2 linked regions of the Homo sapiens genome follow. The main gene of each other region encodes a partner of the protein of the gene in region 2 in a complex. Each region holds a gene or a part of one and is shown on either strand. Other genes may lie near its edges.

Evidence for each region. Proteins that work in one complex are often made in the same cells at the same time.
Region 1: the proteins of TRIB1 (region 2) and COP1 are in contact, whole or in part, in a crystal structure (PDB 5IGQ), measured with the Homo sapiens proteins. Residues at the interface, in NP_079471.1 of Homo sapiens: Asp355, Gln356, Ile357, Val358, Pro359, Glu360, Tyr361; in NP_071902.2 of Homo sapiens: Ile423, Ser425, Val441, Lys472, Tyr491, Trp517, Asp534, Ala556, Asn557, Cys559, Ala576, Asp577, His578, Lys600, Ala601, Ser603, Thr618, Lys643, Asn644, Phe645, Phe699.

The regions. Positions count from the first base shown.
Region 1 is NC_000001.11:175,945,287-175,952,312, forward strand, and holds part of COP1 (E3 ubiquitin-protein ligase COP1), read right to left. Parts: intron 1,954-7,026; coding exon 1,909-1,953; intron 1-1,908. UniProt on the Homo sapiens protein: E3 ubiquitin-protein ligase that mediates ubiquitination and subsequent proteasomal degradation of target proteins.
Region 2 is NC_000008.11:125,426,364-125,433,366, reverse strand, and holds the start of TRIB1 (tribbles homolog 1), read right to left. Parts: upstream 3,010-7,003; 5' UTR 2,465-3,009; coding exon 2,105-2,464; intron 1,159-2,104; exon of another isoform or gene 1,043-1,158; intron 51-1,042; coding exon 1-50. UniProt on the Homo sapiens protein: Adapter protein involved in protein degradation by interacting with COP1 ubiquitin ligase. The COP1-binding motif is masked by autoinhibitory interactions with the protein kinase domain.

The DNA.
Region 1 (7,026 bases), on a different chromosome or scaffold from region 2:
TGGGAAAATGCCAAAGAATTTGAATGGATTGGACATTAATCCTTTTTGACCTGCAGCTTAACAGCTGCATGAACTCTTTCAGATGAGCTATCTCCACAGTTAACTTGGAAGCCTTCAAGGTAAACTACATAAAACACATGGAAAAATAAATTGGCTAATGCATAGCACAAATACATTTTTGGAATATATGTTGGAATCTTTCCACATTCTTATGAAAGTTTTAAGTATCCTTGTTTAGGATTTTAATCTGTTTTCTTCTTTCATCAATAAACACTGTTTATAATGATCAAGGTTACAGGACCTAAAGTCTTGCTCTTTCCTGCTGCTTCATCCATTTCTAGCCAATCATCTAGCGTCCAGATACTTTGTATTTTTAGAATTAAAGTAGTATACTGTCATAAAAAAGTAAGTTGTGATATTGCTAAAACTAAGAGGAAGCAAATGGCTAAGAAAGATCACGGAACAGGAGGATAGTTATGAGACACTGTCAAAAAGAATTACATTAGATGGACACTACAACACTCACTAAGTAGCAAATATTTAAACGTGCAACCTTTCCCCTGCTGCTCAGCTAAGGCTTGACTAATATATGTGCTTCCATAATGCTTTTGTCTTTATATTAGGTAACTAGGCTACTTAACATAAGAAGTCAATGATGCTGAACAAAATCTTAGATTTGTCAGTGGGATCCTATGAGAACCTATGTAGTTTTGAGCTCTTGTAGGTATGCTGGCAATCCCAATTGGTGTAAAGGATAAACTTTTTGAAGAGTAAGGTGTAGCTTTTCAATTCATGACTTGACATGAGAGTAAGAGAGAGACTGAGAGAGTATAGAAAGCCACTTAAATCAGATATTCCAAGACCTTCTACCATCTTGCTTGAGGCTTCCAGAACATAACAAACACTGATCAGTTAAAAAACCTCGTTTTCATTTAAGCTCTCAGTGGTTCTCTAAAGAGGCTTTTCAAACAGAGAAACTGGCTGCCTAAAAAAGGAGACTACCATGTAAATTAGTGCAGTTCTTCTGCGTTAAGTTTGCTCATTTCACCTCTGTAGAATGTTTAGGCTAGGATTTGCTGCCTTGGCTGATGGATTATTCTCCACTTATGATGAGTCTAAGGAAGCTATGGCAAAATTAATGCTAAGTGGCAGGAGAAACACACACGTTATGTTAAAAAACTTTCAATATTTCTACCAAATCAGCAGAGAATATGTGGAAAAAACAGGTACTCTCAGAAACACGTACTCCACCAAAAGGGTGTTTTGTTTAGAAAGTTCACTGCTTATCTCAGGATTTATTTATCCAATGTATCATGTACAAGTGCTATATATGCATCAATCAATTTTCTTTCCTTTTTTTATGGCTAGGCTTCCTTGAATCACATCTATCAATTTTCAACTGAACACTAAAATAACTTTTTCTCCCCTTTGACAACTGAGGAAAAACCTACTTCTTAGGGGACAGAAGAAAGAGAACCATGAGGAAGAGAATAAAATATGACCAAGATATGTTTAAATCTGGTGATGTCTAAGCATCTTCTGCTATATCTTGCATCTCCTGCTATATTTTGGGCTCTATCTACTGAAAGCCCTGTGGGAGAGTTGTACTGGCATAACAGAAGCTAAACTGTGCTTAGCCCACAGTGAATGTTCACTAGTCTTTATCTGTTTTTCAAACTGACCATCTATTAATCCATCCAGCATCCATACAACCTCAATAAGCACTATCATCTTCTCCACAGATGCAAGCTACCTATTCTTTTCCCTTAAATCAAGCCATTTGTAAGGAGACACAGACCCATGATTTGGGATGATCTCTAAGGCTCAGTACAATGGTGTATTTCTATAATCCTGTTTCAGTCTAAAAATGGGCCTGAGTTTAAAATGGAGATATAGTAAATAGCTTACCTTAATTGTACCCTGACTGTTAGCAGCAATCAGCACATTGGACTCCTAGAAAAGAACAAGAGCTTTTAAAGTATAGAGAAGGATTTCCTGGAGAGCAATCCAAGAGATAATTTCCTCTTCATCCTTCTTTCTTCACTTCAATTCCTAAGACAATTGAATCTAATATGAAGATACAATTTTTTTTTTTTTTTTTTGAGACGGAGTCTTGCTCTGTTGCCCAGGCTGGAGTGCAATGGCGCGATCTTGGCTCACCACAACCTCCACTTCCTGGGTTCAAGCGATTCTCCTGCCTCAGCCTCCCGAGTAGCTGGGATTACAGGCATGCGCCACCAGCCCAGGTAATTTTTGTATTTTTAGTAGAGACGGGGATTCTCCATGTTGGTCAGGCTGGTCTCGAACTCCCAACCTCAGGTGATCTGCCCACCTCGGCCTCCCAAAGTGCTGGGATTACAGGCGTGAGCCACTGTGCCCAGTCGAAGAGACAATTTTAACATGTTTTTAACTGTATTTTAAACTTAAGATCCCATATTTTGAAGTGTAAGTTTTAATAAAAGAATAAAGTTAGAAGCAGAGTAGGACACTTTTGAATGTAAACAAAAATAAAAGGGAAAAAGATTGTCAATGGAAGAAAAGCCAAAAGAAACAAAGACTGAAATAAAATGAAAAAAAGAGTAAGTTGAGAAAAACAAAGTGAATAATTGCTTTCCCAGCACACTCCTTCTTCATTCATTTTCTCTCATAAAATACCAGTAATTGATGTAAAACCTGCCAACATCCTTGGCACAAATCTCTATGGATGGACATTTGGTATTAGGAAAACAAGAAAATGTGAATATTCATTTGGGAAAAAGGACTATCTTTCTTTTTAATTATTCTATCATTCAGCACATGCATTTTTAATAACCTTGGTAATTACTTGGATGAGAATATATGTGGTGAAGTATTTTTCTATTCTAAGCCAAGGAAAAAACATTTCTCTGGAAAGTAGGAAGAGTGGGAAAAGAAATGGACATGACTGAGTTTACTAGAGAGAATCTCAGAAAGTAGGAAGAATGGAGACATGCCTCCTGTAGGAAACTGGGCATCTAAAGGGCTCTGGAACTTGGATGTGTTGGAGTCTTTTGCTTTCCATGGTAGGCAGCTAAGAGGTGGTAAACAGACTTAAAATGTCATAGAGGTCAGGCCAGGTGGCAGAGAGAAAAACGAAGTCCAAATAACAGCTATGAGAAACAGATAAAGTGGTCTAATTTGAATGTAGGATAGGATCTACCTAAATATCCTTCAGGCTTCATGACAAAGCAATAATAAGAACAAAGAAAACTCTTGGCTTGTATGTTAGAAAAGTTACTTCAGCTAAGCTGAGTTAAACTTTAGTTTCTTTGACATATGCAAGTTGCGCTTTACAAACTCATACATTTCCATTTTTAAATTTTCCCTTTCATTTCTAATAAAGCTGCTCTTCAGAAATGTGCATCTTGTTACTAATGGCATACAAGAAAATAATAATGTCTTCCACTATTCCAGAATTTTTAATGGAATCAGAATACTCTTTGGAATTAGTCAGCAGCATCAAAGATTATAGGTGTATCAAGAAGAAATAAAGACATGTGGGCATGGGAATTGTTGATCTTTTCCTAGCTGAGGATTTTCCTTAAATTAGCAAATGTTCTTAAAAATAGTAACATGGGGGCTGGGCGCAGTGGCTCACACCTGTAATCCCAGCACTTTGGGAGGCAGAGGTGGGCAGATCATGAGGTCAGAAGATCGAGACCATCCTGGCTAATATGGTGTAATCCTGTCTCTACTAAAATACAAAAAATTAGCTTGGCGTGGTGGCGTGTGCCCGTAGTCCCAGCTAGGCAGGAGGCTGAGGCAGGGGAAGTGCTTGAACCTGGGAGGCACAGGTTGCAGTGAGCAAAGATTGCACCACTGCACTCCAGCCTGGCTGGAGAGACTCCAGCAAGGCTCCGTCTCAAAAAAAAAAAAAAAAAAAAAAAATGAACATGGGTAATACAATACTCACTATTAGAATTAACTTTGGAATATTATGGGCTATTTCTGGGACTTGAGGTATACAGAATCAACACTTCCATATTCGGGGTGGGGGGCTGGGGTGAGGGGAAAGGAAGATGAATTTGGGATTTATTTACTCTTTTAGTGACCTGAATGTAGAAAGTGGTTGGAGTAGGTTCTGGATGTCCTTTAGGAATATAATAACTTACCCTGAGTTGGTTAAGAGACAGCATTTCTATGCTGGCCTCAGAAAACAGCAGAAAGAGGCACTGTGTGGTGCAATATGGATTTCTTTCTAGCAGGAATTTTAAACAAGTTGTATGGTATCAGAACTGCCACTGGTGACCCACAAATAATTCTCCTGTAAACATCATCCAGAAAAGCAGTTGAAAATCTCACTGATCAACCTAGTTGCCATTCAAGGAGGGGACAGACTCTGGTCTGCAAGAAAGCTACTGCCAAGAGCCACCACCACTAAATGCTGCAGCCATCATGAACTGCTCCCTTTGCTATGAGAACAAATAATGACAGGACAATGAAAAATTTAAAGCCGAAAGCTCCATCTCCTTCTGCCATTTTGGGTCTAGTCACCTTTTAATATAGAGAAGGAATGCAGAGACCTGGTGAAGATGAGGATTCACTTGGGGATAAGCAGGGAGTCTACTTCTGGCAGTTACAGGGATTATAAATTACATAATTGAAACTTCTGACTTCTGATGGGAGCAAAACTAGGAAAATTGTAGTATATTATCTTACAGTATGAAAAATTAGCCCCAATATAAATAAGATAATCTAGTTGGATTACCACACAAGAGGAGTTTAAAATATGTACAATTACCACTCTAAACCCAAGAAGGACATCTGATAACTATCCAACATGAATAAACACTGTCTTACTGTAACCTCAGGATTACTATGGCATTAATATATGATGTCATATTAGATGCTATCCAAGGGTTAACTCTTAACACTATTTCCTGCAGAAACAGATAAATACTTTATGTGTTAAAAAAAAAAAAAGTCAACATACGAATTGAATGCCAGTTTGAATGGTCTTTTAGGACTGAAATTTAATGAAAGAAAAATAATGGCTTCATATCTCAGTACATCCTCTCTCCCCAAAGGTAGTATGATTACAAAAAAAGTTATTTAGAATTAAACTATCAGATAGCTAGATATTGGCTTAAGATAAATTATTTTTTTTTTGCATGCAACAGAAAAATAAGACCAGATATTTTACTTCTAGCATAGAGATGTGGAAGTGGTACGTACAAGGTTATTAATGTAAGTTTTTAATGGTTCTTGATTGTATTTTGGATGACTGGTAATTCCTAGTTGTAGCTGTGGTCTGCTAGGGCCTACTATAAATAAGTTCTAGCTCAACAGGTTATTTTTTACTTGCTAAATAAAATAAAAGTGTGAGTCAGTAATTCTTATTATTTTCTCCCTCTTTTTTGGAAACCGGCAGTTTTACTGCAGAACTCTCCTCAAGGCTAAGCTAATAAAATACCCAATATTTTTTTCTGACTATGAAGAGACTAAGAAAAGACAACAGAAAAATTAGCAAGTCTTTTATAAAAACAGAAGACATATAAACATGCACCAACTTGCTTAAGTCAGTGATACTACACTAACTTATACCAAAACATTTTTAGTAGCACACGTAGGCTAGTGAAGAAAACCTGCATCTACTAAAATAGTTTTATCTTTATTGACTTGCTTAAAAAGGGTCATTATAGACAATACATTAAAAATCTGGATGGCGCTGTGGGTCACACCTGTAATCCCAGCACTTTGGGAGGCCAAGGCAGGCGGATCACCTGAGGTCGGGAGTTTGAGACCAGCCTGACCAACATGGAGAAACCCCATCTCTACTAAAAATACAAAAAAAATTAGCCAGGCGTGGTGGCACATGCCTGTAATCCCAGCTACTTGGGAGGCTGAGACAGGAGAATCGCCTGAACCCGGGAGGTGGAGGCTATGGTGAGCCAAGATCATGCCACTGCACTACAGCCTGGCCAACAAGAGCAAAACTCCATCTCAAAAATAAATAAATAAATAAATATATAAAATATAATAAAATAAAATCCTGACAAGTTGAGAAATGAACAGTTATTCACTCAGCAACTGGTGGATTTATTCATAGAGATAGATGTAACTGATTTTAAATGTAAATTAATTTTAGTATAGGTATAAGTATATACAATGTATTTAAATATAAGATACGTGAATATATATATATATATATATATATAAAAACTTCCATTTTTGGCCATAACAGAGTAAACAGACTAAATTTGTTTTCCTACCATATACAACTGGAAAACTGAAAAAAATATGTAAGATACCACTGGACCACAGGCAGTACAGGACTGTGATCTTTGAGAGAAAAGAAACAAATGAAGTGAGTCCTATAATCACCCTGGTTTTCTACTGAGAGGCAATTTCTGGACCACAAAGCAGGTAAGGAGATGGACATAACAACAGATGAGACAAGTGAGGAATAAAACATCAAAAAATTTGGTAACACCTCCAAAATTACAACTGAAGCAGACAGGAAAAAAGCATGAGAGGAAAAAGAGATTAGCATCTCAGTGACCTATTGGGCAATATGCAACCTAATAAATGTATAATTGGAGTCCCAAAGAAGGAAGAGAAAAAAATATATGAAAACGTTAAGACTAAAATGTTTCAAATTTGTAAACTATAAACCCACAAATCTAAGAAGCTTAACAATTTCTGGCAGAAAGAAGCACAACACCACATCAAGGCACACCACAGTTACACTGCTGAAGACAAGAAACAGAGAAAATCTGTAGAAATGCCAAAGAAACAAAGACACATTACATAAAGAGAAAGATCGCCAATTTCCCATCAGCAAGAATGCAAGCCAGAAGACAATAGGACAGCATCTTTAAGATGACAAACAAGAGGCCAGGCGCAGTGGCTCACGCCTGTAATCCCAGCACTTTGGGAGGCCATGGCAGGCGGATCGCCTGAGGTCAGGAGTTTGAGAGCAGCCTGGCCAACATGGTGAAACCCCATCTCTACTAAAAATACAAAAATTAGCTGGGCGTGGTGGCAGGAGCCTGTAATCCCAGCTAC
Region 2 (7,003 bases):
AGCTGGATGTAAGGCCTGATTTTGTCCTGGTAGTGTTTAATGGGAAACACCTGTAGAGAGAAGGGGGGCCCGTTTAGGGGGCTAGAAAAGCAAAGGCAGCCTCCCAAACCCCTGAGGGAGCTGAACAGAAGTTCTCAACCTGTGGGCTTAGGATGTGAGTAAGTTCCATTCACCTACTCCTTTCCTCTGCCACCTTACCTTACGCAGCCCCAGCTGCCCCTGACACCTTTAAAACCAGTAACACCTAAAGCTCTAGACTTGCAAATACCCAAAGGGTTACCCGCTTTCACACAGATGATTTGAAAGAACTGTCTCCTGTACATGTTCCCATCTTCTGTCAGCTCCTGAGAGCTAAGCAAACCCCCCACCCTCTGTGGCCCTTTCCTGTTTGCAGGCCACACTAGTTGAGTGGCTGATAGAAGGAAGCCCCTGGCCTGTCCAGGAGCTGAAAAGCAGTCCCTGGACGTGCATGTGCCTCCTGCAGACCCAAAGTGCTCAACACAGAAAGGGCACAGAATGTGGTGACTCTGCAGCCTCCAAGGGGAAGCAGGGGCCAGAGAACATGCAGAGCTGTCATTAATCAGAAGGAACAGATGACTTGGAGGGGGAGGCTGGGACAATGCAGCCTTAAGCAACCTGCCTACAGTCCGACTCAAGTGTAAGCAGCCTTGAGTTACAATTCTCACAGGAAGGGTATGGAATCCTGCGAATGGGTTTTCCACTTGTTTGTTTATCCCCCCACACCCGACCCCACCCCTAGAAATGAGTAGCATCTCCTCTCTTCTAGGAAGCTGGCTGGTCTCTTTAAAGGCCTTTTGTTCAGTCCAGTTACTCATATCCTAGACTCAACTGGAAACGGTGACACACGGGCTGTCACCATCTGGATTCAGCTATTATCTGCTCAGAGGAACTGGAAGGGGTTGCACAATGGCCAGACTCACCCCACCTCTAAGAGGCCTGGCTGCTCTGGCACCAGCTAGAAAAATCCCCTGCTGCCCCCTCCTCCCACCCCATCCCATCCCATCCCACCACACACACATACATGCTTGTCCCAGAACAGCTCTTAGCCCCAGTCATGGAGAAGAAAAGGTTTTTTTTTCCTCCCTATTAAACTGGGCTTGATCATGCGTCTGAAATTTCATTCGGGTTGGGCAGTAGGTGGCAGCAGCGAGCCCCGGGACGGGGTCGGGGTGTTGGGAGTGTCAGGTGAGTTGCGGAAAACCCAGAAGCGACTTAACTGGGGGGTGATCCTATCTTTCGGGTGAAAAGGAGCGGCCCGAGGGTGCTCTGGGGTGCCTCAAGCAGGGGTGCCACGCTCGCATAAAGTAGACTGTGGGAACGTTCTGCGTCTACCCGCGCAGGAGGAGGACCCGGCGGATCCTGTTTCTAGGAGCTGTGTCTCCTCCTCCTGGATGGGATCCCTATGTTCAAAGGAAAATCGCTGGCTGGAAAATAAAGTGAATCGAAGCGAGGGTTCCTGGCCGGTGTGGGCTTTTCAACATTTCTACTCCGAGCAGATTCCTCCGCCTCGGGTGGATGACTCTGGGACTGCTCCCTTGGGAGGGCGTGTTCTAGTCTCAGCGCGGATTCAATTCGGAATCCCCAAGGCAGGAGCCGGACACAGTCTTCCAGCCCCCTTACCACCTACAACTGAGCCCGGGTGCCGTGCAAGCCCGGCAAGAGAGCTGCCAGCTGCTCCAAGCTCCTAGGAGGCACCCACTAAAGGGCGTCCTTCCAGGACATTGGCGGGGGAGGGGGGGTGGAGAGCGAGGAGAATGAGAGAAGGGGAATGGCATGGCCCTGGAATCCATTTCAATTCCACAACTTATATGGAACGCCACGCGCTACACTGGGCGCTGAGGAAAGGAACAGATAGAGAAAGCCACTGAACACTGCACTTCCTCTAGGCGCCCCCATTATATCACTCCATGGGAAACCCCTCGATCCACAAAAACGTGAACCTGGTCAAATGGCGTCTTATCTGACCCAATCTACTGATCCGCCCTGTGCCCAGCCCAAGCGTTGGCCGGACCCCAAGCACCTTTGCCTACCACCCCGTCCCGCGCCCCCGACCCCAGCCGGGTCCTGGCCCGGGAGCGCCTACCTTGCAGCGCAGCTCGCGTCCAGTGTGGATGCACAGCGCCCGGGACACATGCTCGCGCTCGGCTAGGGGCAGCAGCAGGTAGTCGGCGATGCGGCTGGGCCCCGGCGCGCTCCCGGAGCCTCCGCCGGCCCCCGGAGCGGCAGGCGGGGGCTGCGGGCTGCAGGGCGAGCCGGGGGGGCTGAGGTAGTCCGGGGGGCTGGAGCACTCGGAGAGGCGCGGGCACTTGGCCGCCACAGCCGCCGCGTCGTCGGCGTCCAGCAGGCGTTTGGCCGGGACGCCTCGGGTGGCTGGGAAGAGCAGGGCCGGGCCGCGGGGCTGCGAGGCGCCGCTCATGGCAGAGCGCACCGGACCGACCCGCATCCCGTCCTGGGCCGGGGTGGCCCCGGCTTTTTAAGTCCCGGGATCCGCGCGGGAAGACGCTGCGGGTTTGGTGCCGGCTCCGCGACTTCTTCCAGCCGGCGGGATGGAGTTTGCAGACTGGTCTTGGCTCGGCCCCCACGAGGGGCAAAGCAGGAGCCACTCCCCGGCGCTCGCGTTGCACGCGGGGACCACGCTGGCTGTGCGTCCGGGAGGCGGAGGCCGGCTCGAGTCCCCGGACCCCCGCAGGCAAGGGCTCCCGGAGCCTCGCTGGGGGCGGCCGCCACTATTGTTGCCGAGGCTGCCGATAGTCCGGGAGGCAGAGGCGGCGGCGGCAGCGGTCAGCGATCCCGGGGTCCCGAGCCGCGAGGACAGGATTCAGCAGGCTCGGCGGAGCCACGAAGCAAATGCACTTCCCAAAGCGATGAGTCTCCAGCAAAAGCCGGGGGAACTTTTTCGCGGCGCTCGGGATCCTGAGCGCTCCTGGGCTCCGGGCGTGTATGAGAGCGAGCGAGACGCGCTCAGAGAGAGTGACTGTGAGTGAGTGTGAGCGCTGCACCGATCCCGGCCAGTGCACTCCTCCTTCTCCTTTTCCTCCACCTCCTCCGCCTCCTGGTGACTCACGCTGTATACACACACACTCACAGGCCGGGCTGTGTAAACAGTTGGGAAGCCGGGTTGTGCAATGAGGTGGCTGCGACGACTCCGGCCCCGCCGCCCAGCGAGCAGTCTCCGGAGCGGAGGGAGGAGACTGGGGGAAGGGGAGAGGGAGTAGGAGGTGGGGGGAATGGGGGTGGACTTAGGGCTGGGGATGCTCCGGGCAGCGCGCGCTCGGGCGCAGGTGGTGCGTCCCGGGCCGGCCTGGACGCGCGCACACGCCCCCAGGGCTGGGAGGGGCTGGGCAGGAGGCGGCGCGCGCGCCCTCCCGCAGGCCCCCAGCTCAGCGGAGAAGCCGAAGGAGGGGGCGGAGGAAAAGTTCCCGTGACGTAAGGGCCCGGGGAAGTGGGCGGGAGGGACGGGGCTGCGGGGAGCGAAGCGACCGCTGATTGGTGCGCGCGCCTCATTCACAGTAAGCACAATGGGCTGCGGGCGCGAGGCGGGAGCGCGCACCACGGTTCTCTGCACCCGCCGCTCGCTGCAGCCCCGCGGCGACGCCTTTCGCCCCGGGGATCCCCCCACCGCCCAGCGCCTGGGGAGCTCCGGTTGGAGCCGTGGGCGCCGCCGAGGCCCGGCTGCAGCCGGAGGAAGGAGGGGGATAGGGAGGTGATGAATTCCAGAATCAGTCATTCACCCCCACGCGGTAGTTCCGGGGAAGACCTGTGCGTGGTAGTGGATGTGGCTTTTTTTTTTCCCTTTTCCTGCCCCCTCCCAGCTCTAATCCCCAGCGTCTGTTCGCTTCCACAAATAGAACCTTCTGTTGGAGGAAATAAAAGCAAACACTGGGCCTTCTGCGCTGCCTCCACCTCCACGCCCCCCCAACCCCCCCGCGCCTGCCGCCCGCCCGGATTGCACGGAAATAGCTTCTCCAGGCTCCCGGGCCGCCCCTTCGCGGTGACTCGCAGAAAGAGCTTCCTGAGCCAGGGCCGGTGGGAAACAAAGGATGTGGGGAGCGGGCGGAAGGGGCCCACGTGGCTGCCGCCGGATTCCTACTCCCTCCCCAGCCTCCACACGCGCCGCAGGGTCTAGGGCCTGAGTGCCAACCTGGGTAGGTGGGTAGGCTGGTGGAAGTCATTCTGGCCACTGCCAGAGATACCGCCTGCACCCGGGCAGCCCTGCCTGGTGGTGCGCATGCATTCATTCCGTGTGATTTGGAAGAGCATCAAAGTTGCGCGTGAAACAACTTGGAATCTGTCATTTTTCTTTCTTGAGTGAACCAGGTCAGTTTGGAGTCCCTGGGCACCCAACAATATAACTATTATTAGAGAGCCCTTACTTGTCCTTCTGCTAAATACTTAATTTTCTAAAACCAGGTCGAGCCCCAGGAATAAATCATTTTCCTTATTAATTCTCCATTCATTCAACAAATACTAATTAAGCATCTACCAAGAGCTAAACGCTGGGAATTAGAAGGTGAAAATTAAAATAATAATAATAGCTAACATGAATCGAGGCCTACAATGTGTCGGACACTGTTCTTAGCACTTTATATGTATTACTTCAGTTTTCCAACCACACTATGGGGTTATTTTTTGCCCCATTTCACAGGGAAGAAACTGAAGCCTTAGAAGGATGAAGTTAGGCCAAGCGTGGTGGCTCACGCCTGTAATCCCAGCACTTTGGGAGGCTGAGGTGGGCAGATCACCTGAGGTCAGGAGTTCAAGACCAATCTGGCCAACATGGTGAAACCCCGTCTCTACTACAAGTACAAAAATTAGCTGGGTGTGGTGGCGCGCGCCTGTAATCCCAGCTGCTGGGGAGGCTGAGGTGGGAGAATCACTTGAACCTGGGAGACAGAGGTTGCAGTGAGCCGAGATCGTGCCACTGCACTCCAGCCTTGGGGAGAAAGCAAGACTTAGTCTCAAAAAATAAAAAATAATAATAATAATAATTTAAAAAAAGAACGAAAGATGAAGTTACTTGCTGCGGTTAAGTAGCTCATAAGGGGTGGTGCGGTCAAGCTCCTAAGCATTTATGGCGACTGGAAGGAGAGATTACAATTTGTAGGGGAAAACAGGAGTTAGGGAGGACTCTAGAAGGCATTTGACCTGGGAGATGTGCAGGGACTGTGAGGGAGTTGCTCAAGGGAGAGTATGAATGGTGGGAGGCCGGGCCAGACAAGGGGTGTGCGGAAGGGCAGGGCTAGCAGGCCAGAGAAACTACAAGGGTGGTGGGAGCTGAGCCTGCAGAGGTCTCCTGAGACAGTGTTGGGAAGGGCTTGAAAGCCATGTTGCACTTGGTCCTGTGCCCAGAGGAGAGCCCACCGAAGAGTTAGTTAGTTAGTTTGTTTGTTTGTTTGTTTGTTTGTTTGTTTTGAGACAGAGTCTCCCTCCATCGCCTAAGCTAGAGTGCAGTGACCCAATCTCGGCCCACTGCAACCTCTGCCTCCCGGGTTCAAGTGATTCTCCTGCCTCAGCCTCCCAGTAGCTGGGATTACAGGCGCCCGCCACCATGCCTGGGTAATTTTTTATTTGTAGTAGAGACGAGGTTTCACCATGTTGGCCAGGCCGGTCTTGAACTCCTGACTTTAAGTGATCCACCCACCTCAGCCTCCCAAAGTGCTGGGATTACAGGCTTGAGCCACCACGCCCGGCCCCACCTACATTTTTTTTGTCTTTGAAGATTATTCTGTGCCAGAATGTAAGATCCACTGAGCTGCCAGCACTTGAATGGCAAACTCAGCATGGCCCCTGAGCATCTTCCTCCCAGGTGTGTGCCTCCTTCTCTGCCTCTTCTGAGAGACAGGCATGCCACCATCCACCCAGCTCCGCCCACCCAGGGGCCAGGATCACAGGCACTCATCGTGGGTTCCCCTTTGAATCTGCCTTTTTCCTTTCTCCCACAGCCCACCCTAGACCTGTGAGCTCTCAGTGCCGGGCCCTACCCCGCACTGTTCAGCTCCCTGGGGCTGGCCCTCACCAGCTCTACTTCCCAGGCTCACTTGCCCATTGGCTTCCAGCCCAGTTTGCCCAGTGGGAGGCCCGGGAGGGAGATTAGAAGGCAGGAGGAAGAAGAGAATGCCCAGGCTACTATTTGCTTCAGGCAGCTGGCCACACCTCCTCTGGGGCTCCAGAGGAGACAGCCACTCCGCATGGCTGCTGCGATGTGCTCCCCAGATCCCGCTGCCCAACTGGAGGATCTGTTTCCCTGGCTGCTGGGAGTGCATATCAGGAGCTGTTTTGGAAATTGCCTTGACTGAGAAGAGCCACTTTGCCGGAGGTCACACTCCCTTCCCAAGGGTCCACATCCAGTGACTGCTGATCATGGAAGAATAAAGGTCCCCTTGTCCCAACTTGGGCCACCTGTCCAAGGCATCCCAGCTTCAGAGCTCCCAGATTTAGGCCTTCCTAAAATTGCATCACAGCCCAGCTTTTTCCTCTGCCCAATCCTGTTCCTTCCTCCCCCTCTTCCCACAGAATCCTCTTGCAGGCTGGCCTGCATCTCAGAGTCAGCTTCCTGGGGAGTTCAACCTGTGGCACCCCTTCTTCATGGTCCGAGCTCACTCCAGGGACTCTGGCTTCTGGGAGCAGGTGAAACCACCTTTGTCCCTCCAGCCGTAGGGTGGCAGCAGCTTCCAGATGTTGCTAATCTCTGGGTGGCCCCCAGCACCATGTTTTGTTCTGTTTTGTTTCTGCCCTTTCTATGCCTTTGTAACTAGTTTTCTACATAAATTCTATCCACTGAACTTCCTGGCCTGAGTTCCATTTTCCTGCCCAGACCCTGTCTAATAGAAACCTTCTCCCTTTCCCACGTTCGGCCCTCTCCCCACTCCCATAATCCTAGTTCACAACCTTCCCCTGGATTCCTGCAGTAAGTTCTCAATGGAGCCACTCATTCATCCCTTCAACAAACATTGAGCCCCTACTTGGTGTCAGCACCCACTAA